4 linked regions of the Homo sapiens genome follow. The gene in region 2 interacts genetically with the main gene of each other region. Each region holds a gene or a part of one and is shown on either strand. Other genes may lie near its edges. The genes, in order: DERL2, GBF1, RBM5 and ODR4.

Region 1 (5,981 bases), on a different chromosome or scaffold from region 2:
GATGGAGCACATTCCACCTCTACATGCAGCCCCTAATCATTTCTAGGCAATGGCTGTCATGTAGACCTATTATTGCCAGATCTTCCAATTTTCTCAAGAAAAGCCAAAAGTGAAGATTTTTATCTGTCAATGTTAAATACAGGTTTAAACTTAAAAAAAAAAAAAGTACTGTCAAAACAAAGCACATAGGTAGGTAACAAATCTGTAGGTAACTCATCCATAATCTCTGGCCTAATGATCCAGCTATTCTATAGCCTCAAAGCTAAGAGGACCAAAGAGTGGAAAAATTAAGTCCTATATATGCATCAAGCCATGCTGCTCACATTTCTCCCATTGGTAGACTGAAATCTGCTGTTTCTCCTGAAGAAGTCTCTTGGGGTTCACCAGCTTTCATATGTAGATACTGACAAGCTAATAACTATTCAGAGAATATCCTGGTTCTTCCTTCAAACGACGAAGTGTCAGACACATTTCATTTTTAACTTGTCTGGGATGGTCTGTGGACTTAACTGGTCTGATCACGACCATAACAGCTGGTGGTCACCTTTGCTTTTCCGACCACCAAATTACTGCCCTTGATCATGTTCAGTTTCCCTCTATCCCACTTTCAGAGACAACCACAAGCTTCAGCAACTAGGCTCAAGCTTGCATGCATACACTTTAATCCCTCTATAATTAAAAATACCAGATAATACTTTGCTGATCAATAAACAAAGGTATTTATTCAGCACCCATGTGCCAAGCACTGTGCTAGGCACTGTGGTGGATACAAAAATTAAGACATGGTCCCTGCCCTTAAGGAGCTTACATTCTCATGAGGGAGACAAGACTAATATACATGTACCAGCTAGGAACAGTACAAGACAATATATAATTTGGCGTTAAGAATGTCATACAGACTTGAAGCTTTATAGGGATTCAGAGACAGACAATAAAATAGGCCTTAGAGTCAAGATTTTTTGAGGAATCAGGAACAAGGCCAGGCCTTGAAGAACTGAAGAGACTTAAGTTGAGGTCCCTGTTAGGTAGAAGTGGGAGTAAAGTTAAGAAAAAAACAAGTATGCATATAATGTAGGGGCTTACTAAGAAGTCACTGTGGATTTCTGAGCAGAGGAGTGACTTGATCATACAAGATTCAACAATTTTATTGCAAACTCATAAAATATGTTTAAGTAGCCTGGAGACATCCTACAGAACACAGAAAATAATGGCAGGATCATGACTAACAACATAGCTGGAACTCACCTGTCAAAGAAAAACAGCTACAACATAAAACACTGGCAGGATAGATGACAATAGTTCTAGGAAGCCCATTACTCAACATGGCAATAGCTCCAATGCTTCCTTATTTTCAGAGGCCCCAGAGACTGAGGGTTTCATTATCCAGACCCAGGACTTAGGTGTTCTGCTTCTAGAGACTACACAAGAGGTATGAAAGATATGAGGACATACAAGAGTGACACAGAAAAAACAAGAGGAAGAGAGAAACAAATAGAAATCCATACTGGAAAAAAACGCACCGAAATGTATATAAAATGTATCTCCTAAGGAGATGCAATTTGTATGTCCATTTATTTTTAAATGAACGTATACCGTATTTCCATAACAAACAAAAAACACTATGCTTTAGTCAAGTGTGCTTTTCAGTATCACTAGAAGAATCCAGGAATCCCTCAAATTATGTGTAAGGTTAGTTGGTTGGTCTCAAAATTCCATGTATCAAATCTCACTTTCAGTTTATTTGCATTGTGAAAGGGAAGTGTGTTCTGGAAGAACTAAGATTGAGAGGTAAATTGGGGAGAAAGTAAGGACTTTTCCTTATGTCCATTCAAGCACAGGTATCCTGTCAAGCAACACAGGGCTAGGAATGGTGGTTGTAGGGCTGGCCAAACTGATGAGAGGTGATTGAAATTACCACTGCTCAGGACACAGTGTAGTCAGTCACACAGCAGGGCATCCTGCCACTGGGAACTTGCACCCTATAAAATCGGAGAAATCAAAAACCCTGTAACTGCCTGCCTTTAGGCTGTATATTCAAAATGTATTTCCTGTTTTACCTAGTCATTAATGTATACAGATATTCCCTACTTAAATGAACAGTGAGTTAACAGATTTTAGGATTAGTATTTTACCACAAAAATGCCATTCATTGCATAACTCCAACTCAGGGAGAACAAATAAAACTAGAGAAACTCATTTCTAGCCCAAAAACAATTTAAAAAAAAAAAACAAAAAACAAAATTCTAACAAACGTCACTGATAAAGCGTTCTTGAGCAAAAACAAGATAGGATAAAACTTAAGAATCCCATAAGGATTATACATGCTAAGATTGGCTTTTAAACTTTGAAAACCTTTTTTAAACTGCTTAAAAAGCAGTCCCATAGACCCAGGTTCCATAAAATTGCAACAATCATATTCAAAGTTATTAGCAACATGTAAAATACTTAAATACCATTAGTTATGCAATTCCATTTAAAGACATTAAAACACTTTTCACTTCAAAAACAATCTGAAAATTCCTATTTAGGATGTCCATTATGTTTAAGCCTATGTCTATCTTTCTGAGGACAATGTCACATTCTGGAAAGCTACCCCTTAACAAAGGTTGAATGAACTACTACTAACAATCCACTTTTGGGAAAGGGACCTGTGCCTACATGCCGTTAATGAAAGCTGTTTGGAATCATCTCTTTCCTAGGGGTGCTCTTTCGACTCTTCCAGGTTCTGGAAGTTACTTAAGCAGTGTGAATGCAAACCTGCTGAGACTCAGGGAAGACTTAATATTTAGGGGAAGTATTTATTGAACCACAGCATTAAGTGTCTACTTCTGTGGACCCTGTCTAATTTCTACCTGATTGGGAAGGTAATCCAGGTACTTGGCTCTGAAAAGGTTCTTGAATTTTCACGAAGCAAATGACTAATGTTAACTAGCCAAAGACCCTGGAAGAACATATGCCTAGCTAACTGGTATCTGTTCGTCTGGCTCCAAAGTCAACATTCTAACTTGGTTTCCAAATCTAATGAAAATCTGAGACCCTGTCTCTATTTTTTTTTTTTAATTAAAAAAACAAAAAACAAAACAAAACAAAAAAGGCAAAAAAAAAAAAAATGGCTGGGCATGGTGGCTCATGCCTGTCATCCTAGCACTTTGGGAGGCTGAGGTGGGAGGATTGCTTGAGTCCAGGAGTTCAAGACCAGCCTGGGCAACACAGTGAGACCCCATCTGTATTTAAAAAAAAATTTTTAATTAAAACTTTTTTAAAAATAAAAGAAAAAAAAAGTCTAATGAAAATCTTCCTAGTTTTACAAAAATGTGGCCCTTACCAATCTTTCCCTGGATACTTCTTAATGGAGAAATGTAAGTAAAGCAAATAAGATGCCACATTAGCTTACAGCTGACTTTCCTATAGCTGAATTCCTACTGCTACAAGAACCATCCTCCCTCCTTTTTTTTCATGTTGTCTGACAAAGTTTGGCAAAACCCAGATGCAAAACAACCTATCCAGATGACAGAAATAAATCATCTTCCTGCTGAATCTTGCATTCTGAGTTAGTAAGATGTACACAACCACAGCATGACAGCCACGTATTTCCAATCCTGAAATGAAATCCAGTTAAAAGTTGTGAAGACACAGGAAGAACAGCTGTGTAAACTGTTCTGAGCTCAGATCTACGCAGGAGGGCTACAATACATTATCAGAATTTAAAAGATCACACACAAAAGCTTTAATACAGTGAGAGAAAAATGGAATTCCGTTTTATTTTGTCCTCTCTGAAACTTCCATTTACACCATGGCCTCATCTATCAAGAAGAGGAAGAAAAGGCTCTGCCTTATACCATAAAAATCAAGTACTCATGTACTTGTTAGAGGTGGCAGGATATTTGTTTCTCCAGTTTTTTGGCTCTAAGAAATTACACTTTCAGTACCAGTGTAGTGAGGAACCACTGGCAAACTGTTGGAAATGTCTTCTGGATTAGTCAGTGTACCATTTCATAAAGTGCTTCTGGAGTTAAAATCTGCCAAGCTGTCAAAAGTGTCCACACTTTTGCAACAAAGGATAAAAGATCCCAGTGGGTATCACCGAGTCCTTCCCAGCTGGGTCTCATTATTGGCACTGCTGCTTTAACCTCCAAGCCGCTGGCCCTCACCCCAGGCGAAGCCTCCTGGCCGTTCCTCAGGTAGTGGATTGTAATTTGGATCCTCATCTGGTGTATCAAAAATAGCTTTCCTAAAAGACAAGCAACAGATATAATTTGGTCCCAGAGTCATCTCAGGTCCAAAGTACTACAAGGTCAGTTCAGGCCCCATAGGGTTTCCACCAATAGGTAAGCATTACACCTGCCTGCCAATTAAACAGTTAACATATTGTAAGAGCATCTATAATTATTAACATTTACATTAGCTTTTATCTTTTACTGATTTTTACTACAAAAGCAATCCAAATCATAATAATTACAGAGAAGGAGGAAATAGAGATGAGCAAAATATCCTCAATTTCCAGAGGTAACTATTGTCAATGTTTTAGTTATTCTTTGGGAATTTTTACATTATGTCATTTTACAAAAGTTAGATCACACTACATGTTTTGTAACCTGACTTTCACATATTTATCATTAATGTTTCCCCATAACCAAGGTATCACCCAAGTGTGCATCAACAGGTGAATAAACAAAATACGGTACACACATATAATAGAATTTTTTTTTTTTTTTTTTGAGACGGGAGTCTCACTCTGTCGCCCAGGCTGGAGTGCCATGGTGCGATCTCGGCTCACTGCAACCTCCGCCTCCCGGATTCAAGCAATTCTCCTGCCTCAGCCTCCCGAGTAGCTGGGATTACAGGCGCCCGCCACCACGCCCGGCTGATTTTTGTATTTTTAGGAGGGAAGGTTTTCATCATGTTGGCCAGACTGGTCTCGAACTCCTGAACTCAGGTGATCTGCCTGCCTCGGCTTCCCAAAATGCTGGGATTACAGGCATGAGCCACTGCACCTAGTCAACATGGTGAAACCCTGTCTCCACCAAAAATACAAAAATTAGCCTGGCGTGGTGGCGCATGCCTGTAATCCCAGCTACTACTCAGGCGGCTGAGGCAGAAGAATCACTTGAACCTGGGAGGCACAGGTTACAGTGAGCTGAGACTGCTCCATTGCACTCCAGCCTGGGCGACAGAGCAAGACTGTCTCAAAAAAAAGGAAGGAAATTCAGGCACATGGTACAACATGGATGAACCTTGAGGACTTTACGCTAAATGAAATAAGAAATAAGCCAGACAAAAAAGGACAAATATTGTATGATTCCACTTAGGTACAGAGTAGTCAAATTCAGAGAAAGAAAATAGAATGGTGATGGCTGGGGTGGGGAGTTGTTTAATGAGTACAGAGTTGTAGTTCTGTAGGATGAAGAGAGTTCTATGGATGGTGGTGATGGCAGCAAAACAGTATGAATATACTTAATGCCACTGAACATTTAAAATGAGTTAAGATGGTGAATTTTATGTTAGGTATTATTTTACCACAAAATTTTTAAAAAATTAACAAGGTATCCCAAGAAAAATTACTGCAGAACATAGGAGGGGATAGTAAATGTCCAAAAGACTCCCTAAGTACTATGATGTAGTAATTCAAAACCTCACTAAAGAAGGAACCATTAAAGCAGCATCCTCAATTTGCACTTATATTTCTACTTGTAATCCTCCACAGTTGATAAAATTAGAAATGTATCTGAAAACTTCTGATTTATACTGGAGTCAGAAAATAGTATAATTCAAAATGAGTTTTTAAAATTCTTACAAATTAACAATAAAAACAAACATACCAACAGAAAAAATGGGCAAAGGGCTGAATATGCAATTCAAAAAGGAAATCCATGTGGTCAATAAACGTGAGAATGTTTGCTCTCACAATAATCAAAGGAAAGTATATTAGAAACTGAGATCCCGGCAGGTGTGGTGGCTCATGCCTGTAATCCCAGCACTTT
Region 2 (7,556 bases):
GGAGTCTCCCCTCAAAACTCATTTCAATGTTCAGCTACCTTCTATCTCCTTTGCCAGGCTACTCTTTTTTTTTTTTTTTTTTTTTTTTTTCGCGACAGGGTCTCACTATCACCCAGGTTGGAGTGCAGTGGCATGATCTCAGCTCACTGCAACCTCTGCCTCCCGGGTTCAAGCGATCCTTCCACCTCAGCCTCCCCAGTAGCTGGGATTATAGGTGTGCACTACCACGCCCAGCTAATTTTTATATTTTTTTGGTACAGGCGGGGTTTCACCATGTTGGCCAGGCTGGTTTCAAACTCCTGACCTCAGGTGATCTACCTGCCTCAGCCTCCCAAAGTGCTGGGATTACAGGTATGAGCCACTGCGCCTGGCCGCCAGGTTACTCTCTACTAGAATCCCTGAAAGGAAACCTCTGCAAATTCATTCCAAGTCCCTGACCCAGCCTTCTCTTCCCAAGCCTGAAGACTGCAAGCAGCTAGTTCCTCATAGCTTATGGTCCTGTCATTTCCCATGGGAAGAGCGGCAACAGTTCTCTCTAGTGGCCTTCTTCCCTCGGCTCACAGACCCTGCTCAGCAGCATTCCCACGCCCCCTTGGGCCTCCTCTTAGGCCCCCTGCTTGCTACTCAGTGCCTATCAGGCTAGGCTAGAGAGACTCACCACAGGCCCCCAGCTCAGATGGAATCTCTGGGGGCGGTGGATGGCCAGGTGTCCTAGTGTCGCCAGCAGCGGAAGTCAGGTGGGCTGAGGCGAGAGGCTTTTGGCCTTGAGGCTCCATGGGCATGGGGTCTGGAGACGGTAGAGAATTGAGATGGCACCTCTTAGTGCTTTCTCTCTCCAGCAGAGCCCTAGCTACCCAACAGCCTTTCTACCCACCCAGGGCACAGACAATAAATTCAGCTTTGGGGACTTTTTTTTTTTGAGATGGAATCTCGTTCTGTCACTCAGGCTGTGATCTCGGCTCACTGCAACCTCCACTTCCCGGGTTCAAGTGATTCTCCTGTTTCAGCCTCCTGAGTAGCTGGGACTACAGGCACCCACCGCCACACCTGGCTAATTTTTGTATTTTTCGTAGACATGGGGTTTCACTATGTTGGTCAGGCTGGTCTCAAATTCCTGCCCTCGGGTGATCCACCCACCTCGGCCTCTCAAAGTGCTGGGATTAGAGGTGTGAGCCATTGTGCCCAGGCAGGAGACTCTTTTTGATAAAGCTGGGCTGAGCCCCCTACCCTGGATGACGGTCTGCTTGAAGAGTTCATCTCGTAGGTGAGGGAGAAAACAGTCAATGCGTTCCCAGGTGATCTCCCAGAGGGCCGAGGGGCCGCCTCCCCGTGCATCTGCACTGTGGAAAATCTCCGCTGTGTCCATCACCAGAAGCATGTTCTTCAGAGACTCAGGGATCGCCTCTGACTGCAGGTGGCAGTGGGACCATGAGAATAGGAAAGAGGGCATGGGGGGAGTATGGTAAAGGGAGGTAGCTACCAAGGGGGAAAGGGCAAGTCCTTCCAACAGGTGGGACAGGAGGCAGGCAGCAGAGCTGAGGTAGAACATACCAGTAAGTCGCTGGAGCCTGCGTGCATGTACTTGTCCATGAAGTCCAAGATGGTGAGCCAGAGGGCCGCAAAGGTAGAGAGTGACAGCAGTGGAGACAGGTGCTGCAGGAAGACCTATGGCCCACCAGCCCCCTTCAGCTGAGGGGACTGTAGGAGCCTCTGGACCCCTCTCTGAGGCTGGGTAGCTAAGCCTGTCCTATCTTGCATGAGAATCTTAGATCAGAGATGGAGGAATCTCTGATTTAAGATTCAGAATCCTCTCAGGTCCCTAGGTCCTGCTTAGTGTCCATAGCTGGGGGGTTGTGAGCACCTACAGTGCATCTCTAGGTCCTGCCAGAAGCCCTGGCTTCCCTCCTCGGGAAAAGGCAGGTATGGGAGAGAGGGTGGGTATAGGGTGGTGAGCAGTACCTTAGAGAGCAATGTGGAAGCCCTCATCCGGGTCTCCTCCATCCCACCCACATCTGCAGGGCTGATGTTCTCCAAGAGCTTGGTAAGTAGAGGAAACAGCACCTGGTGGGGGTAAATGTGCAATGTCTCCCTATGAGGTTCAGCTAGGCAGCCTTGCCCCAAGGAAGCCAGGAACTGGATGGGCATAGAGCTGAAGGGAAGGTATGATGCAGGCTGAAGACTCACATTAGGGGCTCTTCAGGCTGCCTGGCTTTCCTTTTCTTAGGATTTGAACTTTATCTTAAGACCAGTAGGAAGTCCCACCTTGTTAAAACAGGACTCCCATTCCAGGGCATCTAGCTTTTGCAGATCATGTACAAGTAGTGCTCGCTGCAGATAGGTCAGTGCCTGCATCCGTACCTGGCGCCGGGCATCGCAGCACAGGCAGGCAATACCTGAGAGCAAGAGCAGGGTCAGGATCCTTCAGGCATCTTGATCCTGATGCTCCCCAAACTCCCTACCTCTGCCCCTCCTGGTTTACCCTGCAGTAAAGGGCACCAGCAGTGGGCCCAGAGGGTGCGAGAATCAGCTTCAATCTTCTGGCCACCTGTCTCCAGGTGGCGTTGCTCCTCCGCCCATGAGCTGTAGATAGAGGCTGCCCGCGTGTGCAGGGTGTGCATCAGGTCTAGCAACTAGGATCACAGGAGGGGGCAGGATGTGAGTGGGGTTAGGTCTCGTGGATCCCTTTCCCCCTCCCCACTCACTGTCCCTAACTAAGTCCTCAAGGTGTCCCTAGCACCAATCATGCCATACCTCACCCCCTCGCTACTCTTTCCCTTGACTTGACTTCCTGGTTGTTCCAGTCCTTGTAAAGGACTCTCCAAGTCAGAGATTACTCATGAGAGAGAGAGCCTTAGGAGGTGTGTGGACTGAGTATTTCACAATCCTTACTCACAGTGAGAAAGATACTTTCTTTTCAATTCTATTTCACACCTGCTGATGACAGAGAAAGCCTCATGTTGTTAATTTAATTTTATTTTTTGAGGCAGGGTCTCACTCTGTCACCCAGGCTGGAGTGCAGTGGCACAATCACGGCTCGCTGCAGCCTCGAACTCCTGGGCTCAGGTGATCCTCCCACCTCAGCCTTATGAGTAGATGGAACTACAGCTGTGCGCTGCCACAGCCAGCTAATTTTTTGTATTTTTGTAGAGATGGGGTTTTGCCATGTTGCCCAGGCTGATCTTGAGCTCCTGGGCCCAAGCAATAGTCCTCCCAAAGTTTTAGGATTACAGGTGTGATTATACCATGCCCGGCCTAATTTTATTTCTTATTTTATTTTTTGAGACAGGGTCTTGCTCTGTGCAAAACTGGAGTGCATGGCACCATCATGGCTCACTGCCTCCTGGATCTCCTAGGCTCAAGAAATCCTCCCACCTACTCAGCTACTCAGCCTCCCCAGTAGCTGGGACTACAATGTGTGCCACCATGCCCAGATAATTTTTGCATTTTTATTTTTGTAGAGGCAGGGTCTCGCTATTTTTCCCAGGCTGGTCTCGAACTCCTGGCCTCAAGTGATCCTCCCGCCTCAGCCTCCCAAAGTGCTGGAATTACAGGTGTGAGCCACTGTACCTGGCTGTTAATCTCATTTTTAAAACAGAAAACCTCAGGCTCAGAGGCTTTGATTGGGCAATAGTGTCTGGCCAGATTTAATACATTTTTACTTTCGTTATTTTTCTTTTCTTTCTTTTTTTTTTTTTTGAGATGGAGTCTTGCTCTGTCGCCCAGGCTGGAGTGCAGTGGCATAATCTCGGCTCACTGCAAGCTCTGCCTCCCGGGTTCACGCCATTCTCCTGTCTCAGCCTCCCGAGTAGCTGGGACTACAGGCGCCTGCCACCATGCACAGCTATTTTTTCTATTTTTAGTAGAGACGGGGTTTCACCGTGTTAGCCAGGGTGGTCTCCATCTCCTGACCTCATGATCCACCCGCCTCGGCCTCCCAAAGTGCTGGGATTACAGGCAGGAGCCACCAAGCCCAGCCACTTTTGTCATTTTTGTATGGTTATTCTATTTAAGGCAATTGGTTCTCCATCAATTTAGTGATATAAACTCTGCTCACATAATTAATTTTATATGCCTTTGAATAGACACAGGGTAACTCTGGAAGGATAGACAAGAAACTGGTGACAGTGGCTGCCTCTAGTGAGGGGAACTCAGAAGCTGGGGACAGGAATGGATTGGAAACTTAGTTTTATCAGTTTACCCTTTTGTATATTTTGAACCTACTCAAAAAATAAGTAAATCTTAGTTTAAAAATAAATTTAAAGGCCAGGTGTGGTGGCTCATGCCTGTAATCCTAGCACTTTGAGAGGCCGAGGCAGGCGGATCACGAGGTCAGGAGATCAAGGCCATCCTGGCCAACATGGTGAAACCCCGTTTCTACTAAAAATACAAAAAATTAGCCAGGCATGGTGGCACGCGCCTGTAGTCCTAGCTACTTGGAAGGCTGAGGCAGGAGAATCGCTTGAACCCGGGAGGTGGAGGTTGCAGTGAGCCGAGATCACGCCACTGCACTCCAGCCTGGGTGACAGAGAGACTACATCTCAAAAAATAAATAAATAAATAAATAAATAAAAATAAAAATAAATAAATAAATAAATTTAAGCAAATAAAGACTTACAGGTAAGGTTTTGGGTAAGGGAATATTGTGAAGATGGTGGTCCAGGGCCTGGGCTGGCACACATGGGCCCTTCCCCTCAGCCCTGGCTTTCCCTGGCCGCCCCAGGCTCCCAGTATCAGGTGCAGGGGAGGAGAGGAAGTAAAGGGTGCCATACTTACGTCCTGACTGACCTGTAAAGACACCGTATGGTAGCTGGCAGGCACGCCTTCGTCCTCATCATCATCACTCTGCCCGCCCCGAGAGGCATGTTGGCTGGAGGTTCGAGGCCGGCGAAGCATTGATCCCTCTTTGGATTTCTTCTTGAAGCGGTTCCCTTTGCTGTCATATTTGTGACTCTTGCCACGTTTCTCCTGGGACTTGCATCCTGAGCAGAGCCAGACTCAGGTCACATTTCTGTGTCTATATAGGCATAGATACCCTGCCTTTTCTCCCCTCTCAGCCTCTCCCCTGCATAATTGCATGGCTACTCCCCAGCTGCCCCCTCATCAGCTGACCCACCGCCATTCAGACTGGCCTCCACAAAGATCCGGAGAGTCTTGACGCAGAGCTCAAAGTTGTCAGGTGTGATGTGGGCAGCATCACGCACAATGAAGGACAGCGATTCCACACACTTAAGCAGAGACTTAGTGTCGTGTGGCCCCAAATCCAGTCCCACTGTTAGGCTGTATTGATTGATCAGGGGTGAAGGGCCTGGGCGGCTGGGCCCTGGCTTGGAGTTATCAACGTCATCCTTCCCAACCTGTAAAGTACACAGAGGAGCTGGGGACACAGGCTTGGCCCCTGTGTGAATGTCCTTGCAGAGGACCAGGAATTCTTCCCACAGGTCAAGCAGGAGAGACTCAATTGCTGCCCATATTGTCACTCACCACTAACCAACCACTGTTGACCACATCGGCATCTGTGGCTGATCGGTGTATCTTGCCCGGCCTGCCATGGTCAGTGTAGACCTCTGAGTCGGAAGTGTACCCTCGATCCAGGCTCACGTCATTCTGATGGTAGGATGGGAGCTCACTATCTGACTGGGCCCCTATGGTAGGCAGGGAGAAGGGCAGAGTCAGGGTGGGGATGGGGCACTGGGATGAGGGATAAATCAGGCTCTCAGAAAAAAGATGCTGAGGCCTGGCCTCCCCTCTCTCTGGCATAGTTTAATTTCTGTCACCAGAGGGCCAAAGGATGGCCGGAACAGTTTCTCTGTTGACCAAATAAGGTGGCAGGCTAATCTGGGTTCCTGATGGCATCTAGTGGCAGCTGTAGCACCACTCTAGGGAGTGGTGGCAAGGACAAATAAGCAATGCAGAAGGCTATGAAGCCAGGCTTTCCACTGTCCTGAGGACTGTTTTCCCAGTTTCTGGGATTTAGTGATGTATCGATTTAGTGATATAAAGTCTGCTCACAGAATTCTATTTTCCCAGAATTCTGGGAAAACAGTCCTCGGGACAGCTCAGAAACAGAAACTGGGAAACAGTCCTCAGGACAAATCAGTCCTCAGGACAGTAGGAAGCCTGGCTTCACAGCCGTCTGCATTGCTTATTTGCCCTCATGCTATTTAACTTATGGGTACTAGCCAGCGGGCACTGGAAGCTCTGGAAGTGATGGCAGGAGCCAGGGCTGTTTAATCTGCTGAACACAGTAACCTGTGTTTTGTTTTCCTGTCCCAACTCCTGGGGTGTAACTGTTTATCTGCCAGCCTGAGTCTCCCTGGGAAAGGGCTTACCGGCATCAGGTGCATCTGCCCTGGCTGTGGCCTGCAGAGCAGCTGGAGGCTTCACACCTGAGCCGATGCACTCCAGCAGTGTGAAGAGTGTGGCCCAGTCATCACCTGAGTGGATGTTGGCTGCATTGGTCTTCAGGAGTTCATGGAGCCCATACGCAACCTGGTGGCTGACTCGGGATAGCACACTGGGCTTCATCAGTAGCAAAATGCGCAGGGAGAGCAGCACCTGGAGTGGGGTTAGGGCAGGGAGCGGGGAAGCGGGGAGCTGTGTGGGCACACAGCTTCCTGTCTAGTTTTCTTTCCCACCAGTCTCCTTAGGCCAGTGAAGACAGTTTGGCTAGGACCCAATTTAGGATACTGCTCTGGTCTTTTTTTTTTTTTTCAAATAGAAATATATTAATTATATTATTTGAGACAGGGTCTTGGTCTGTCTCCCAGGCTGGAGCACAGTAGCACAATCACAGCTCACTGCAACCTGAAACTCCTGGGCTCAAGTGATCCTCCTGCCTCAGTCTCTGGAGTAGCTGGGACTACAGGTGCATGTGACCACACCTGGCTAATTTTTTTTTTCTTTTTTGGAAAGATGGGGTCTCGCTATGTTGCCCAGGCTGGTCTTGAACTCCCAGGCTCAAGCGATCTTCCCGTCTCAGCCTCCTGAAGTGCTGGGATTATAGGCATGAGCCACTGCACCCAGCCTCAAATACAAATTTTTATTGAGAAAATTATAGGCTCATATGCAGTTGTAAAGAAATAATACAAAAAGGTCCCTTATACACTTTGCCCAGTTTATCCCAATGGTAACATTATGCAAAACTATAGTATAATATCATAATCAAGATACTATCTGATCTTATTCAGATTTCCTGTTTTACTTGCATTTTTGTGTGTATTAATTTCTATACAATTTTATTACCTGTGTAGGTTTGGGTATCCACCACAAAACAACATACTGAACAGTTCCACCACAACAGTATCCCTCATGTTGCCTTTTTCTTTTTTTAGAGACAGGTTTTGCTCTGTCACCCAGGCTGGAGTGCAGTGGTATGATCATAGCTCACAGCAGCCTCAAACTCCTGGGCGCAAGTGATCCTCCTGTCTCAGCCTCCAGAGTAGCTGGAACTACAGGCATGCACCACCATGCCCAGCTCATGTTGCCCTTTTATAACCACACCCACCTCCTCCTTCCTGCCCCCATCCCTAATCCTTAGCAATCTGTCTTCAAATTCT
Region 3 (8,391 bases), on a different chromosome or scaffold from region 2:
ACTACGCTCTGTTCTACTCACTCTGCCAGGGAAAATAATTTTCATTCTAAAGTCAGTCACATTTTGTACCTTTAAAAGACATAGTTAAAAATACACACGGCCCACAGATCAGTTTATAAGATAATCCAAATAGTTTAAAGTGTTAAAAAGTATTACCAAATTCCAGTTTACTAAGATAACCACTGGGAAAATACCTACATCCCTAAATGTAATGATAATTCTCAGGAATGTATGCTAAATCTGAAATAAACATTTGGGTTGAATATTTCTAAGAAAGAGTCATGTTGTCCAAGTTTATTTTTGCATTTTGTCAAGCCTAGAGTCTACATATTATCCCTTCATCCCTGATTCAGATCTTAGTGACCAAAAACAGGAAGAAAGCAGTTACTCGAATTTCACCCAATTTTAAAGGGTGAAATTAAGTACATCCCTGGCTCATCTACTCTCAAGGGTATCATGCCTACTGGAAAATGGACCAAAAACCTGGATGAACTAAGTTAGTCTTTTTTTTCCCCATCAGGCAACTTAGTTGTCTGTCAGATACAACTGGATAGTTACCCAAAACTAGCACCCCTTAAGAGAACACTCTTCTTATAACATCTGGTTTATTTTTGGCTAAAGGGCAGCACTGGGCTTCATGGGAAAACCTAATAACAAGAGGCTTAAACCTATTTGACCACAGATAAAATACACCTTTTGTAAACTGTTTACCAGATTCATAAAACTGCTGTGCAATCATAAGGCAAAGGAAAGGTTTATAAGGGCTTCATTTAGAATATACAAATTTAATAAAAAGAATCAAAGGAAATATGGGACTGAGACACCCCAAAGGGGTAAATGTTAATTTAGTAAGCTATTTAGAACCACAGACTGCTGACACAGCATTAAAATACCATGTGACATGAACATCTCCTAAGGTCCCTCAGCCTGTCAATGTGATCTACCACAGGGACTGACCTCAATACTAAAAAGGCAGATGGCTGAATAAGGGTGTGTGTTTAAATCAAATGGTCTGAGAGCATGTACCCATAGGTGACACAATAGCCAAATGCTCTCATCTTAATTTTCCACTAATTCTTTGGCTCTTTCTTTCTTCATGTAACACACAGTCCCAAGCTTCTCAGCTCTCTAAGTCTGGATCATCTTGCTATTCAGGGAACAATAACAAGAAATGGCATTCATTGATTGCTTACCACAGCCAGGAACTGTGCTAAGTGCCAGACTGTATGATCTCCTGGATTCTGCAAAGGTTGCTGTCCACACAGGGAACCTTCAGTGACCCACTCTACCCTGCCCTTCTTTGCCTAAAATTCTTTCTTATCCTTCAGCTTCCTTCCAGAGAATATTTTCTCCAGGAAGCTTTCCTGGCTGTGAACAAGAAAAAGACATACTTCCTATGTGTTCTAAGAGCACCCTACACTTTATCACAGCATGTTCACACAGTACTTTAATTCTCTCACTAGACTGTAGTTTGTGACAACAGGATCATAAAGGTGTTCGTTAGCAATGCCTGGCGCAAAACACTCATATATTAGTTTGATAAACTATTTTAAACAAGGAGTTCAGTCCCCACTGAAATGTTGAGATCAAAGCCACGTACTGTAGTAACTTACCTTTTGTCTGAACCCATTGTCCCACTGAAGATTTAGCACACAGCTCCAAAAGGTTCAAATTTTATTTTTTCTAGGAGACAAGAGAGATTAATTGCTATAAATCTCAGAGATCACTTAAGTCAGCAGCTCCATAGCTTGGATACTACTGAGGCTGGGATTTCATCAAACCTTCAAATCATTGACAGTGATTATCTAAGGTGGGGAAGTGGTGGGGACAAACTGTCAACGTTAAAATCGTGCTAACATTTTGTTAACAATGAGCAAAACCGGAAGATTAAGCATATTTTAAAATATTAGATTCCAGATTTAACAGAATCATAATACGGAGCAAGCAGAAGACTCCTTCCCTGCTCCTACCTTAGAATTACAAAGCAAAAAGGGCAGAGCTACAATCAGCTCCTTGGTTTTGTATCAAAGCAACTCCGTGGGATAGTTGACCGTTAAAACATTAATCCAAGTGTCTTCATTAATACAAGGAGCAACATGAAATTCAAACACTTCTGATGAAAAATGTAAAACCTCGTAGAAGCTGGGATACTGAGCTGACTGAAATCTACTACATTAATAACGTATCGCATAAGACAAGAGCAAAGCTAGAAACGACCTAATTCCTAGGTAACAATAACCACCACGTCTTGAGCCAGTTCTTATGACTACAAACCACTGAGTAGTGAACAGCCCGGCCCCCCGCCCCCCGTTGGTAATAAGACATCACACTGCTGGACCGCGTTCGATGAGCGCGAGGTCCGAAAAATCAGTTCCAGTAGTCTCTGGAAGCCTAGTCTAGAGCGAATGCTCAACGATTTGTTGAAATTAATAAATGAAAAAGAACCACTGGGGGGAAACAAGTCCCGGGGCATATTCACTGGTGCCGCCCCTTGTCTCCCGGGCGGTGCCGGCACCCACCTCCGTGGGGTCTCGCGGCCGAGATGGCGGCGTCACGGCCTGCTCGACCGACTCCAGCGTCCGGCCTGCCCTCCCCGCACATGCCCCTCCCGCCTCCCAAGAGGTTCCAAACCCGCAGATGGGCGATCACCGAACAGCTTTTCGGAGAGGGCGATTCAGTTGCAGTTGAGCGGGGGATGGCGGCCAGAGACTGCCAGGGAGCTCCCAAGGAGTGCCCGAGGGACAGGCGACGGCTCCACTGCTCCGTTGGGCTGAAGATTAGGGGACGTGTATCCACAAGGGGCAAAGTCACAGCCAGAAAGAAGCAGGCCCAAGGCTGAGCTGGCTGGACACCCTCTGGAAACTGACAGAGCTGGCAACAAGGAAGGGCGCGGCCCTCCAACGCCTGGGGTAATTTAGCCCCTCTACAGAACCGGCTGGAGCTGATCAGTCGCCTCCGGCAGCTGACAAGGGAGGCTTGGGGGCCAGCCCAAATGGCAAGAACCTACCGTCGTTACAGACAGCCGCCGCACTTACCCCAAGGAGAGACCGAAGCAGCAGTAGCGGTTCTGCGCCCCAGAACCTCCAACAAGGTTCGGCGGCTACACAAAATGGCGCCTCCGCCGACGGCCGTCTCCTACCCACAGTACCTCACGCTTATCCCCTCCCCCTGTCACCCGCCTCCTGCGGAGAAGTCCAATCCTCGAAGCGGCCTGGCTGTGCGAGGGCTGCCGGGAAATGTGGTCGCCAGACCATCCTGTCACTTAGGACGCTCTGTGTTAATGTCTTGCAATTCTCTTCTAAATCACTACAGAGTTGTCGATCGGCTTTTGCAGACCTGGATTAGTTTTTAGGGCTCCTATTAGGCATGTTAATAATTCTTTGCTTTTGCTACTAGCGCCGTAGAGAGTACAGTTTGCTTTCACTGGCACGGTGTAAAACATTGTCTAATTCTACTTCAAAAGGAGACCGTGCGTGAAGTGGTGGCTCACTCACAAGCCAGCATTTTGGGAGGCCGAGGCAGGAGGATCGCTTGAGGCCAGGAGTTCGAGACCAGCCTGGGAAACACAGTGAGATCCTATCTCTACAAAAAATAAAATTAACTGAGCATGGTGGCGTGCACCTCTTGTCCCAGCTACTCAGGAGCTGAGGTGAGAGGTTCGCTTGGGCCCAAGAGGTCGAGGCTGCAGTGAGCTGTGATCTCGTCACAGCACTCCAGCCTGGGGACAATGCGAGAAACTGTCGCTAAAAAATAAAAAGGAGGCCGGTGCTGGGCGCGGTGGCTCACTCCTGTAATCCCAGCACTTTGGGAGGCCAAGGCGGGCGGATCACAAGGTCAGGAGATCGAGACCATCCTGGCTAACACGGTGAAATCCCGTCTCTACTAAAAATACAAAAAAATTAGCTGGGCATGGTGGCGGGCGCCTGTAGTCCCAGCTACTTGGGCGGCTGAGGCAGGAGAATGGTGTGAACCCGGGAGGCGGAGCTTGCAGTGAGCCGAGATTGCGCCACTGCACTCCAGCCTGGGCAACAGAGTGAGACTCTGTTTCAAAAAAAAAAAAAAAAAAGGCTGGACGCAGTGGCTCACGCCTGTAATCCCAGCACTTTGGGAGGCCGAGGCAAGTGGATCACGAGGTCAGGAGCTCAAGACCAGCCTGACCAATATGGTGAAACCGCGTCTCTACTAAAAATACAAAAATTAGCCGGGCATGGTGGCATGCACCTGTAGTTCCAGCTACTAGGGAGGCTGAGGCAGGAGAATCACTTGAACCAGGGAGGCAGAGGTTGCAGTGAGCTGAGATCGTGCCACTGCACTCCAGCCTGGGTGACAGAGCAAGACTCAGTCTCAAAATAATAATAATAATAATAATAATAATAATAATAATAATAATAATAAATAAATAAATAAAAAGGAGGGGCCAGGCATGATGGCTCATGCCTGTAATCCAAGCACTGTGGGAGGCCGAGGCAGGTGGATCAGCTGAGCTCAGGAGTTCGAGACCAGCCTGGCCAACATGGCTAAACCCCGTCTCTACTAAAAATACAAAAATTAGCTGGGTGTGGTGGCGCACACCTATAATCCCAGCTACTTGGGAGGCTGAGGTAGGAGAATCGCTTGAACCCAAGAGGCGGAGGTTGCAGTGAGCCGAGATTGCTCTACCGCACTCCAGCTTGTGCAACACAGCAAGACTCTATCTCAAAAAAAAATAAAAATAAAAAATAAATTAAAATGAGGAACATTAGTTGATCGCTTTACTAGATGCTATATTATTGCCCTAGATGCTTTGCAAACATTTTTGTTTGTTTGTTTGTTTGAGATGGAGTTTTGCTCCTGTTGCCCAGGCTGGAGTGCAATGGCACAGTTTCAACTCACTGCAAACTCTGCCTCCCAGGTTCAAGTGATTCTCCTGCCTCAGCCTCCCAAACAGCTGGGATTACAGGCACCCGCCACCACACCCAGCTAATTTTTGTATTTTTAGTAGAGATGGGGTTTCACCATGTTGACCAGGCTGGTTTCGAACTCCTGACCTCAGGTGATCCACCTGCCTCAGCCTCCCAAAGTGCTAGGATTACAGGCATGAGCCACCGCACCCAGCCAGAACTGATTTTTCAGGTCATACAAATTGAAAACTGTGCCTATACCATTAGTTACAGAAAGTTATACATCAGTTACAGAAAACTGTGCCTATACCATTTTCTTCTCTCTCTGGAAAACAAATCTTTCAAGAATAAGTGGAGGGATGTCAGTGTATATATCTATATATAGGTATATACACAATACATATATAGACGAAAAGGTAGAAATATAATATATGTGGTGTGTGTGTATTTAGAGAGGAAATATATACAATTTATGGGGAAGCATATATGCAAAATATCAGAAAAGAGTACATGCATTAATGAAATTTAAAAGTTAACATTGATGACATCACTGCAAACCCTACAATGGATGATGCAGATGCCAAGAATCTAGAACTCACTAGACTTCATAGCCACTAGCCGTTGCCTGCCTTGTCCCCAAAGCAGTTCAACAAGCACCTTTGGATATTCCTGAGGTGCTTGCTGAGCTGGGCTTACCACCAGTCATAAAAGCTATATAGCTATTCACAAACCTCAAAATAATCTTTTTTTTTTTTGAGACGGGGTCTTACTCTGTCACCCAGGTTGGAGTGCAATGTCATGATCTCGGTTCATTGCAACCTCGACCTATCCAGGTCAAGAGATCCTCCCACCTCAGCCTCCTGAGTAGCTGAGACCACAGGTGTGCACCACCATGCCCAACTAATTTTTTGTATTTTTGGGGTAGAGATGGAGTTTCACCATGTTGCCCTGGCTGGTCTCGAACTCCTGAGTTCAAGCGATCCTCCTGCCTCAACCTCCCAAAGTGCTGGGATTACAAGCGTGAGCCACCATGCCCAGCCTGCAAAATAATTCTTAAACTTGAAGAGGTCCCTGGCAAAAAAAGATGGATTTCATCCATAGGTAAGTGCCATCCTCCAAATTATCTCTGGTAGCTGATCTTCTTTTAGACATTGGCCTGTTGAGCTCCAGAGCTCTGCTGCCAAAGGCCTGTCTGGTAGCTGATGTAAGAAAAAGAAAGACATCAGAGTGAGTTGCTCTTTGTTTTAAATAAAGCCACATATGTTCAATAAGGGATAGTCCTTTAAGATTGTCTTTTCTAGCCCTCTCCCTCTCCCTCTCCCCACGGTCTCCCTCTCTCTCTCTTTCCACGGTCTCCCTCTGATGCCGAGCCGAAGCTGGACAGTACTGCTGCCATCTCGGCTCACTGCAACCTCCCTGCCTGATTCTCCTGCCTCAGCTTGCCGAGTGCCTGCGATTGCAGGTGCGCACCGCCACGCCTGACTGGTTTTCGTATTTTTTTGGTGGAGACGGGGATTCGCTGTGTTGGCCGGGCTGGTCTCCAGCTCCTAACCGTGAGTGATCCGCCAGCCTCGGCCTCCCGAGGTGCCGGGATTGCAGACGGAGTCTCGTTCACTCAGTGCTCAATGGTGCCCAGGCTGGAGTGCAGTGGCATGATCTCGGCTCGCTACAACCTCCACCTCCCAGCAGCCTGCCTTGGCCTCCCAAAGTGCCGAGATTGCAGCCTCTGCCCGGCCGCCACCCCGTCTGGGAAGTGAGGAGCGTCTCCGCCTGGCCGCCCATCGTCTGGGATGTGAGGAGCCCCTCTGCCTGGCTGCCCAGTCTGGAAAGTGAGGAGCGTCTCTGCCCGGCCGCCATCCCATCTAGGAAGTGAGGAGCGCCTCTTCCCGGCCGCCATCACATCTGGGAAGTGAGGAGCGTCTCTGCCCGGCCGCCCATCGTCTGAGATGTGGGGAGCACCTCTGCCCTGCCGCCCGTCCGGGATGTGAGGAGCGTCTCTGCCCGGCCGCCCCGTCTGAGAAGTGAGGAGACCCTCTGCCTGGCAACCGCCCCGTCTGAGAAGTGAGGAGCCCCTCCGCCAGGCAGCCGCCCCGTCTGAGAAGTGAGGAGCCCCTCCGCCCAGCAGCCACCCCGTCTGGGAAGTGAGGAGCGTCTCCTCCCGGCAGCCACCTCGTCCGGGAGGGAGGTGGGGGGTTCAGCCCCCCGCCCGGCCAGCCGCCCCGTCCGGGAGGGAGGTGGGGGGGTCAGCCCCCCGCCCGGCCAGCCGCCCCGTCCGGCAGATGAGGGGCGCCTCTGCCCGGCCGCCCCTACTGGGAAGTGAGGAGCCTCTCTGCCCGGCCAGCCGCTCCCTCCGGGAGGGAGGTGGGGGGGTCAGCCCCCCGCCCGGCCAGCCGCCCCGTCCGGGAGGGAGGTGGGGGGGTCAGCCCCCCGCCCGGCCAGCCGCCCCGTCCGGGAGGGAGGTGGGGGGGTCAGCCCCCCGCCCGGCCAGCCGCCCCGTCCGGGAGGTGAGGGGCGCCTCTGCCCGGCCGCCCCTACTGGGAAGTGAGGAGCCCCTCTGCCCGGCCAGCCGCCCCGTCCGGGAGGGAGGTGGGGGGGGTCAGCCCCCCGCCCGGCCAGCCGCCCGGTCCGGGAGGTGAGGGGCGCCTCTGCCCGGCCGCCCCTACTGGGAAGTGAGGAGCTCCTCTGCCCGGCCAGCCGCCCCTGTCCGGGAGGGAGGTGGAGGGGTCAGCCCCCCGCCCGGCCAGCCGCCCCGTCCGGGAGGGAGGGAGGTGGGGGAGTCAGCCCCCCGCCTGGCCAGCCGCCCCTTCCGGGAAGTGAGGGGCGCCTCTGCCCGGCCGCCCCTACTGGGAAGTGAGGAGCCCCTCTGCCCGGCCAGCCGCCCCGTCCGGGAGGGAGGTGGGGGGGGTCAGCCCCCCGTCCGGCCAGCCGCCCCGTCCGGGAGGTGAGGGGCGCCTCTGCCCGGCCGCGCCTACTGGGAAGTGAGGAGCCCCTCTGCCCGGCCACCACCCTGTCTGGGAGGTGTACCCAACAGCTCATTGAGACCGGGCCATGATGACAATGGCGGTTTTGTAGAATAGAAAGGGGGGAAAGGTGGGGAAAAGATTGAGAAATCGGATGGTTGCCGTGTCTGTGTAGAAAGAGGTAGACATGGGAGACTTTTCATTTTGTTCTGTACTAAGAAAAATTCTTCTGCCTTGGGATCCTGTTGATCGGTGACCTTACCCCCAACCCTGTGCTCTCTGAAACATGTGCTGTATCCACTCAGGGTTGAATGGATTAAGGGCGGTGCAAGATGTGCTTTGTTAAACAGATGCTTGAAGGCAGCATGCTCATTAAGAGTCATCACCACTCCCTAATCTCAAGTACCCAGGGACACAAACACTGCGGAAGGCCGCAGGGTCCTCTGCCTAGGAAAACCAGAGACCTTTGTTCACTTGTTTATCTGCTGACCTTCCCTCCACTAATTGTCCTGTGACCCTGCCAAATCCCCCTCTGCGAGAAACACCCAAGA
Region 4 (7,759 bases), on a different chromosome or scaffold from region 2:
ACTTGATAAGCATATATGAAAGAACTATACTATTTGCTTAGAAACTATGCTAAGTGGGATAACACAAAGATGAGCAACACAATCTCTGTCCTTGAGCAATACATACTACAGTAAGAGTTATTTAAGTAGATAAATAGCAATACAATAACAACATATAGCTTCTACTTTGTACAACGCATTATTGTAAGTACTTTCCATGTAACATTAATAATTCATAAAACCCCAGGAAGTGGGTACCATTATTATAATCCTCATTTTATAGATGAAGAAACTGAAATGAGAAAAGTTGATTAAATAACTTGCCAAAGTGACAAAGCTGGGTAAGTGGCAAAGGAGGGACTTAAATTCAGACACTCTGGCTCTAGAATCCATGTTTTTCAACACCACGCTCATAATGAGGAATCGTAACCAGTCCTTCAATTAAATCATTACTACGGGTAGCTCTTACTCTGTTTTCCCTCTGGTCTGTGGATGGAAGTCAGTATATTCATTCCCTCTATTGGCTTATGCTCCTTTGATTTGCATTTCTATAGCTTAAAACCAAAGATATTGAATAAAAGAGCTAGGCAATATAATGAATGATTAAATCAAGGAGTTCATAATCAGTGAGGATGAAAATGTAAAAGAGATGATATCCAAAAGAGCTATAAAACAAACAGAGACTGCAGGAACACAGTTACAGTATTTTGAACACTGCAATTTAGGAATCATCATCATTTGGATTCTGTTAAAAATGTGAATCTTATTCAGTACCACAAAGTTAAGGCTACCAGAGATATGCTGGGGTGGTATATCTGATACCAGTAAACTGTCAGTCACAAAACGGTTTTGCATTTTAAAACTAAAGCCCAGAGAATGGATTCAAGTCTGAAATGTCCTACTGGAGGCTGTTTCCTTATTGTTTCAATGAGCTTGTTCAGTTTTGTCTCAAAATACATTAATTTCTTCCTGGCTCTTTTTTTTTTTTGTTTTTTGAGATGGAGTCTTGCTCTGTTGCCCAGGCTGGAGTGCAGTGGCGCGATCTCGGCTCAATGCAAGCTCCACCTCCCAGGTTCACGCCATTCTCCTGCCTCAGCCTCCCAAGTAGCTGGGACTACAGGCACCCGCCACCACACTCGGCTAATTTTTTGTATTTTTAGTAGAGACGGGGTTTCACCGTGTTAGCCAGGATAGTCTCGATCTCCTGACCGTGTGATCTGCCTGCCTTGGCCTCCCAAAGTGCTGGGATTACAGGTGTGAGTCACCATGCCTGGCCTTCCTAGCTCTTTTTTGACAACAATAGACGTGAATCAGATTTGCATATCATTTTTTAGAGACTAAGTCTAGGAATGCTTGTCTAAATATCACTGTTGCCTCTGTGAAGTTAAGGGCTTTTACCTTTTAGTAATGCCTTAAGGTATGCAATTCTATGTATCTACTTTCCTCTATATCATATTATACTCCTTTTCCTTCTGGTCTAATAATTCTTAATTCTTGCAACAAATACAAGTAATTCTAAAGTTATATTTAACCTTTTAACCTTATTTCTTCTAGGGTGTCACCTAGTAGCCATATTAATGTGTAAGAAACTGAATGTAATAGGGAGATGAAAATCTATTCAATTATGAAATCTGATTGAATGTCAGATAAATTTTTCTTTAGTGCTCTTTCAAAATTTTTAAATGTAGTCAACCATACTTTATAAAAGGCAGTACTAAAAATGTATATAGTCAGCTTTCCACATCTGTGGTTTCCACTTCCATGTATTCAACCAACCACAGATTGAAAAATTATTTTTTTAAAGCATGATTACATCTGTATCATTAAAGATGTTTTTTCTTGTCACTATTCCCTAAACAATATAATATAACAACTATAGCATTTACATTGTATTAGGTATTATAAGTAACTTAGAGATGATTTAAGATATGCAAATGCTACACCATTTAATATAAGGAACTGGAGCATCCATGGATTTCATATCCATGGGGTGGGCAGGTGAGAGGGTCCTGGAACCAATGCCCCACGGATACCAAGGGACAACTGTATTTTGCCTTATAGGGTCATAATTTTCCAGAAATGTTGTATATCAGCCAAAGCCTTTGTGGTCCAAGCACTGTGACTGACACAACTCAACCTTTCTGGGCTCTGGTTTCCTAATCTATAAAATAAAGCATTTGAATCCTAGCAGATCTGAAAACCTATCTAATTTTAGGATTCTGTGAATCTAAGTACAGAAAAATCTACATTTCCCAAATGACAGATCAACAGTATGATAATACTGTGGGCTTAGGACATAGCATAATACTTCATATACCAGCAACTTTAATTACAATGCTTATCTAAAAAATATTTTTGGGGAAAAATCAACCTTAAGCTCCGCTGTTGATTTATTTTTCCTTAGTTATTACAAAATATCATAAAATGCTTCCATTTATATTTCTTAGACGGCTTCACAACATGATTCAAAAGTAAGAACTAGAGAAAAAGAATAAATTTCATATAAGAACTAAATCACCAATTCACAGAAGGCCCACGACTGTGGGAACTGCAGAGAGACGACACTGGGAATGCATTATTTACAATGAATAATTTAACAAATTCTTTCATAAGAGTAAACACGAAACAATCTACGGATTGAGCTTTAAAACTACAGAATTATGATCTGGAACCATACAAGTTCTGTTACTGTAGAAATTAACAATGTGTTTAAAAACTTCAGTTACAACAGTTTTCAATTTTAAAAACAATATAATGTTAGGTAACCGTTTCTGCAACGAAAAATTTAAAACATAGGCTACACTCAAAGTGCTACCGGTTTCTTTTAATTCTCCTCCTGAAGAATTAACCCGGGTCCTTAAATTCCCGGGTACTGAATCACTCAGTGCCACCTCCCCACCACCAAAAACCATTTAGGTACGCCGTTTCACACAAGGTAAGTTCGTCAGAAGTGTGTGCCGGAGTGACTGTCCATATGGTTCCAACACTGTCCCTTCCTTTTTCTCTTGAAAAGAGAGCACACACACACACACACACACACACACACTACACTTAGGCTGACTTACCTGTTTTCAGAATGTGCACTCGTGGCAGACAATTACCTCGGACGGTCTCTCCGCCGGAGATGGGGGTTTCGGGCCCAAGTACCAGCCTCTAGGGGCCAGATTCCCTCCGGTCTCAATTCACTGCCACTGAATTCATCAGAAAGCGACCTACTTCCCACACCTCACTTCCCACTCCAAAGCCAGGGACTTGGGAGTCAGGTGGCGCAGATTGATGACGTAAAAGCCCCCCCTCCCTTCCCCGCAGAGCCTCAGCCAAAGCGACTGCGGTCGCCACCCCGCCCCCTTCTGGGCGCCATAGAGAGCGTGGCGGTATCCCGGAGCCTGCCGTCCGGCCCTACCGGGACCGATGCCCTCTAGTGGCTCAGTGTCCAGAAGCCGCCAACGAGGACGATCCATGGCATCCCGGGGCTTTGACGGTAAGGTCACCAGCTCTTCAGGGAGGGCCAAGGGGTGACGAGTACGTATGTGGCGCCACCGTGCGGACAGCGGTTACGGGGCCGAGATAGGAGAGCCAGGGGAGCGGGGAGAAAAACGGAAGCTGAGAGGGCGGTGCAGCATTGGGCTCCCGGAAAAGAATGAGAAAAACACTACATTTCCCAGAGCCCTACAAGGCCTGAAGTGGGTGGAGCTGGAAGCCGGAAAATTGGGTGCGCAAGAGGATCAGGGATAGCCTCTGAGCTCGGGTTCCCAGGGTTCGTAGCTTCCAACGGCTGCGCGCGCACTTCGGTCGCGGGCGGTGAGGTGCTGTTGCTGAAACGCTGCCGCTGAGGGTGGACTCGATTTCCCAGGGTCCCGCCGCGGGAGTCTCCGGCGGGCGGGCGCGCGCGAGCCACCGAGCGAGGTGATAGAGGCGGCGGCCCAGGCGTCTGGGTCCTGCTGGTCTTCGCCTTTCTTCTCCGCTTCTACCCCGTCGGCCGCTGCCACTGGGGTCCCTGGCCCCACCGACATGGCGGCGGTGTTGCAGCAAGTCCTGGAGCGCACGGAGCTGAACAAGCTGCCCAAGTCTGTCCAGAACAAACTTGAAAAGTTCCTTGCTGATCAGCAATCCGAGATCGATGGCCTGAAGGGGCGGCATGAGAAATTTAAGGTGGAGAGCGGTAAGTGAGATGCTCTTTCCGTCCTTGGTTTTGGGCTCGACTCCCGCCCTTTGGGTCTGGTCTTCCCCCATCAAGTTGGCACTGGGTACCGCTCTGTTAACCTCACTTCCTGGGCTCTGTGGATATCCTGAGCCTTCGCTTTCCTGCTCCTTACAGTTTGATAAGAAGCCTTTGAAAAAAAAATCTGAATCTAAGTTCAGTAGCATTTTCTTTGTAGTTAGGGTAGGCTCATACAGGGACGCTTATTTTCCTTCGTCCGGCAGACGGGAAACAGACTTGATAGAGTCTGCGAACCCATCTCTCTAAGCCTAGAGTACCTTATATGTTTTGTTGCACTTCAACTGATAGTGGCTCCGCCCTATTTTCTAGGCACCTGCATTCTAGGCCTTTGCCAAATTGACCACTCTGTGCACTTGTTCTTAGTGTGTGCGTCGTCCCGTGGCTCCAGAACGAATCAGATGTTTACAAAAATGAATATTAGGTGCATAAGAGCGCTGGAAACACAGTGAATGTGCAGTACATAAATTTAATATATCTTGATTTCTCTTAAAAAGTTGGAGTTTGATAGAAAACATTAAAATTTTCTTGTAATTACCTAAAGTAGGCCTTTAAGTAAGAAAGTTACTGACAATAATGGCTTGAACATCCTTGAAAAAAATATGAAGAATATAGTCATTACCATTAGTAAAATACAAACTTCCCGTTAATGTGTTTTGGTTTACCATTTGTTTGGGGAGGTTCATACTGTTCTTGCTAAGTTGACTGGAAATTCTGAACAAGTTTTTACTTCAAAAAAAGTGTAACTGTCAAGCAGAATTGACCTTGAAAATTAGTTCTCTGATCCCAGAGCTGAGTATAGTACATTGCATTCTATTTATTAATTTGCACCATAAATATTGAATGTCTTACATGTTCCTGATACTATGCTGAACATGATATTCAATCCCTTCCCTTGGAAAGTTTACACATTTACTTTTACATATATTTAGTAGTTTTATGCTTTCAGGTAATATCTTGACTACTATAAAAGAAGTCTTTTAAAACAAAGGAGTTTTTTTTTGTCTAAACAATTTTTTCTCGTGTAATAAATACTTTATTTATTAAGCAGTTTACTGATGTCTGGAGAAAATACTAAGATAAATGAGGTTACCTGCCTTGAAGACATTGATTTGTAAAGCCCCTTTTAGGCCTTATTTTTATTTTTTATTTTTTGTCATGTAAGTCGTTTGGAAATGCTTTAAGTCCTTTTCAGTGCTCAGTCTATTTATCTTTACTCAGATTCTCTTATGTGGAGCACAATTCTAATACTGTATCTTAAGTTTTAAAATCAAGGTTATTAGAAATAAATAACAGTATTCACAATGTATGTACATGTGTTTGATTTTGTTTTTTGTTTTTTGCTTGTCTGCTGTAGAACAACAGTATTTTGAAATAGAAAAGAGGTTGTCCCACAGTCAGGAGAGACTTGTGAATGAAACCCGAGAGTGTCAAAGCTTGCGGCTTGAGCTAGAGAAACTCAGTAAGTATTTAATTCATCTTTGTAAGTATTCTCGGAGTATCGAAATCTTCAGAGACTCCTTTATATACTTTGGAAACATTTGCTTACTAAACATGAAAATATTGATTAAGCATCATTGGTTTTTATTATGGTGATATTTTGATTTTTCACTTAGTGGTAAAGATTTTGTGAGAACACAGAATTTAATGGTCAGGAGGTCTGGATTCTTATTCTGATTTTGCTATTAAAATTGCTTTTGCCACATGTAAATCTTAACAGTATCTGATTATTGTTTATAAAATGGTTAGACCCACATGTCTGTCTACCTAGACAGCTTTGTAAATCAAATGAGATAAGAGTTCTTGAAATCTTTTTAAAAAGGTGAAAGCATTATGCAACTAAAGAAGTAGAGAGTGGCTTGTTTTTATGTTGAAGAATCGAAGCCTATTGATTTCATTATATTTATGTTTTAACTCCATTTTTTAATAATTTTTATAAATATCTATGAATCTCAGGATATTTCCCCTTTAAGGCCTAATTCCTATAAAAGATTGATAGCTAATCTCTTTCTTACTTTTCTTACATCATTAAGTTTTAGAAAGTTCACAAGATGTTAAAGATCCTGACATTTCTTAGGAGGATGATATGTCTTGTGCTTTGCTTTTCCCATCCAAGTTCTGACCAGGCCCCACCCTGCTTAGCTTCCGAGATCAGACGAGATGGGGTGCCTTCAGGGTGGTCTGGCTGTAGACTGCTTCTGCTTTAAGAAAGCAAACATCAGAACATTAGGAAAGATCTCTATAAAGGTGTAATTAATTTTTTTTTTCCTTTTTTTTTGGAGACAGAGTCTCACTGTGTTGCCCAGGCTGGAATGCAGTGGTGCAATCTTGGCTCTCTGCAACCTCTGCCTCTTGGGTTCAAGCGATTCTTGCGCCTCAGCCTCCTGAGTAGCTGGAATTACAGGCATGTACCACCAGGCCCAGCTAATTTTTGTATTTTTAGTAGATACAGTGGTTCGCCATGTTGGCCAGGCTGGTCTTGAACTCCTGGCCTCGAGCGATTCTCCCGCCTCGGCGTCCCAAAGTGCTGGGATTGCCACTGTGTCTGGCTGGTATAATTAATTGATACTTAATATAGTTCAATTTTAATTTGATTGATGGAGAAGGAACACAGGAAGTTCATAATCAAATGATTAAAATTGCAGCTTTCCTTCTTAATGGGTCCATGACCATCAACTATTTAGGTTATAACTTTTTTCAGCTACTTTTGGTACACCTCATTTTAAAAACGTAATGTATATGCATACATGTGTGATGGAGCATATATAGCTAGATCTGGTTCATTATCTATGTAGTTTTGCCTAGCCATAATAAAAAGATCTGTTTAGTAGTAGTGCCGAGGAATTTGAGAAAAATGACTGAATACAGCTTTTACGAGATCTGGGAGAAGAGAAAAAGGGATGAACCTACAGATACATCAGATACCTTCCTGTGGTATACAGTTAATGTGTGCGCGCGTGTGTGTGTATTTATATACTCTGGATCAGTAAGTCTGGAAAGCAGTAAATAATATTAAAACAAAATAGAAAATTTAGACACATTTAATGGGGATTTTTTTGCTTTAATGGTCCTCTTTAAATAGAAGTTAAGATTAGAATTAATTAAAATGTATTTGCTTATTAAATTGCCAACATATGTATTTTAGTGAAATACAGTTTCAAAATGTATATTTTTGGAAAAATTTTAAAAATTATATTTTTTCTAGTTAGCCTATGTTTAGAAGAGAAACTGCATGTAAGGGAAAAGAGCCCATTTTGAGTGGCAATTGAGAGATTGATAAGTGCGTTATCAAGCATAATGTTTTTTCTTTAAAGGCTCTATTTAGAGTGATAAATGATAGGAATTGCAAATATTCATTATTGTGATTTGCTGTATATACATGTTATATAGTTTAAATGCTTTTTCTCTCTTGATCCTGTCTTTTTAACTCCATTTTCTTACTGCTAAGTACAGTTCACTGTTTCTTATGATATATGTTGACTTAGAAGATGGCACTGAAAAATAAAGGAATTACTAATTGCATGTGACTTTCCCCATAAATGTTGGCTAGGATTATTATAC

Evidence for each region.
Region 1: changes in GBF1 (region 2) and DERL2 together harm fitness more than expected from each alone (negative genetic interaction), as found in Homo sapiens cells (one study listed by BioGRID).
Region 3: changes in GBF1 (region 2) and RBM5 together harm fitness more than expected from each alone (negative genetic interaction), as found in Homo sapiens cells (one study listed by BioGRID).
Region 4: changes in GBF1 (region 2) and ODR4 together harm fitness more than expected from each alone (negative genetic interaction), as found in Homo sapiens cells (one study listed by BioGRID).

Annotation. Positions count from the first base shown.
Region 1 is NC_000017.11:5,470,559-5,476,539, forward strand, and holds the end of DERL2 (derlin-2), read right to left. Parts: intron 4,232-5,981; coding exon 4,126-4,231; 3' UTR 696-4,125; downstream 1-695.
Region 2 is NC_000010.11:102,374,358-102,381,913, reverse strand, and holds part of GBF1 (Golgi-specific brefeldin A-resistance guanine nucleotide exchange factor 1), read right to left. Parts: intron 6,556-7,556; coding exon 6,330-6,555; intron 5,643-6,329; coding exon 5,482-5,642; intron 5,355-5,481; coding exon 5,114-5,354; intron 4,980-5,113; coding exon 4,774-4,979; intron 2,631-4,773; coding exon 2,480-2,630; intron 2,394-2,479; coding exon 2,263-2,393; coding exon of another isoform or gene 2,221-2,262; exon of another isoform or gene 2,185-2,220; intron 2,062-2,184; coding exon 1,960-2,061; intron 1,666-1,959; coding exon 1,552-1,665; intron 1,409-1,551; coding exon 1,228-1,408; intron 788-1,227; coding exon 659-787; intron 1-658. UniProt on the Homo sapiens protein: Guanine-nucleotide exchange factor (GEF) for members of the Arf family of small GTPases involved in trafficking in the early secretory pathway; its GEF activity initiates the coating of nascent vesicles via the localized generation of activated ARFs through replacement of GDP with GTP.
Region 3 is NC_000003.12:50,083,674-50,092,064, reverse strand, and holds the start of RBM5 (RNA-binding protein 5), read right to left. Parts: upstream 3,147-8,391; 5' UTR 3,036-3,146; intron 1,684-3,035; 5' UTR 1,631-1,683; coding exon 1,614-1,630; intron 23-1,613; coding exon 1-22. UniProt on the Homo sapiens protein: Component of the spliceosome A complex. Binds to ssRNA containing the consensus sequence 5'-AGGUAA-3'. Regulates alternative splicing of a number of mRNAs.
Region 4 is NC_000001.11:186,371,260-186,379,018, reverse strand, and holds the start of ODR4 (protein odr-4 homolog), read right to left. Parts: upstream 3,182-7,759; 5' UTR 3,045-3,181; intron 1-3,044. Other genes in the region: nucleoprotein TPR, read left to right, coding at 3,991-4,141, 5,556-5,660. UniProt on the Homo sapiens protein: May play a role in the trafficking of a subset of G-protein coupled receptors.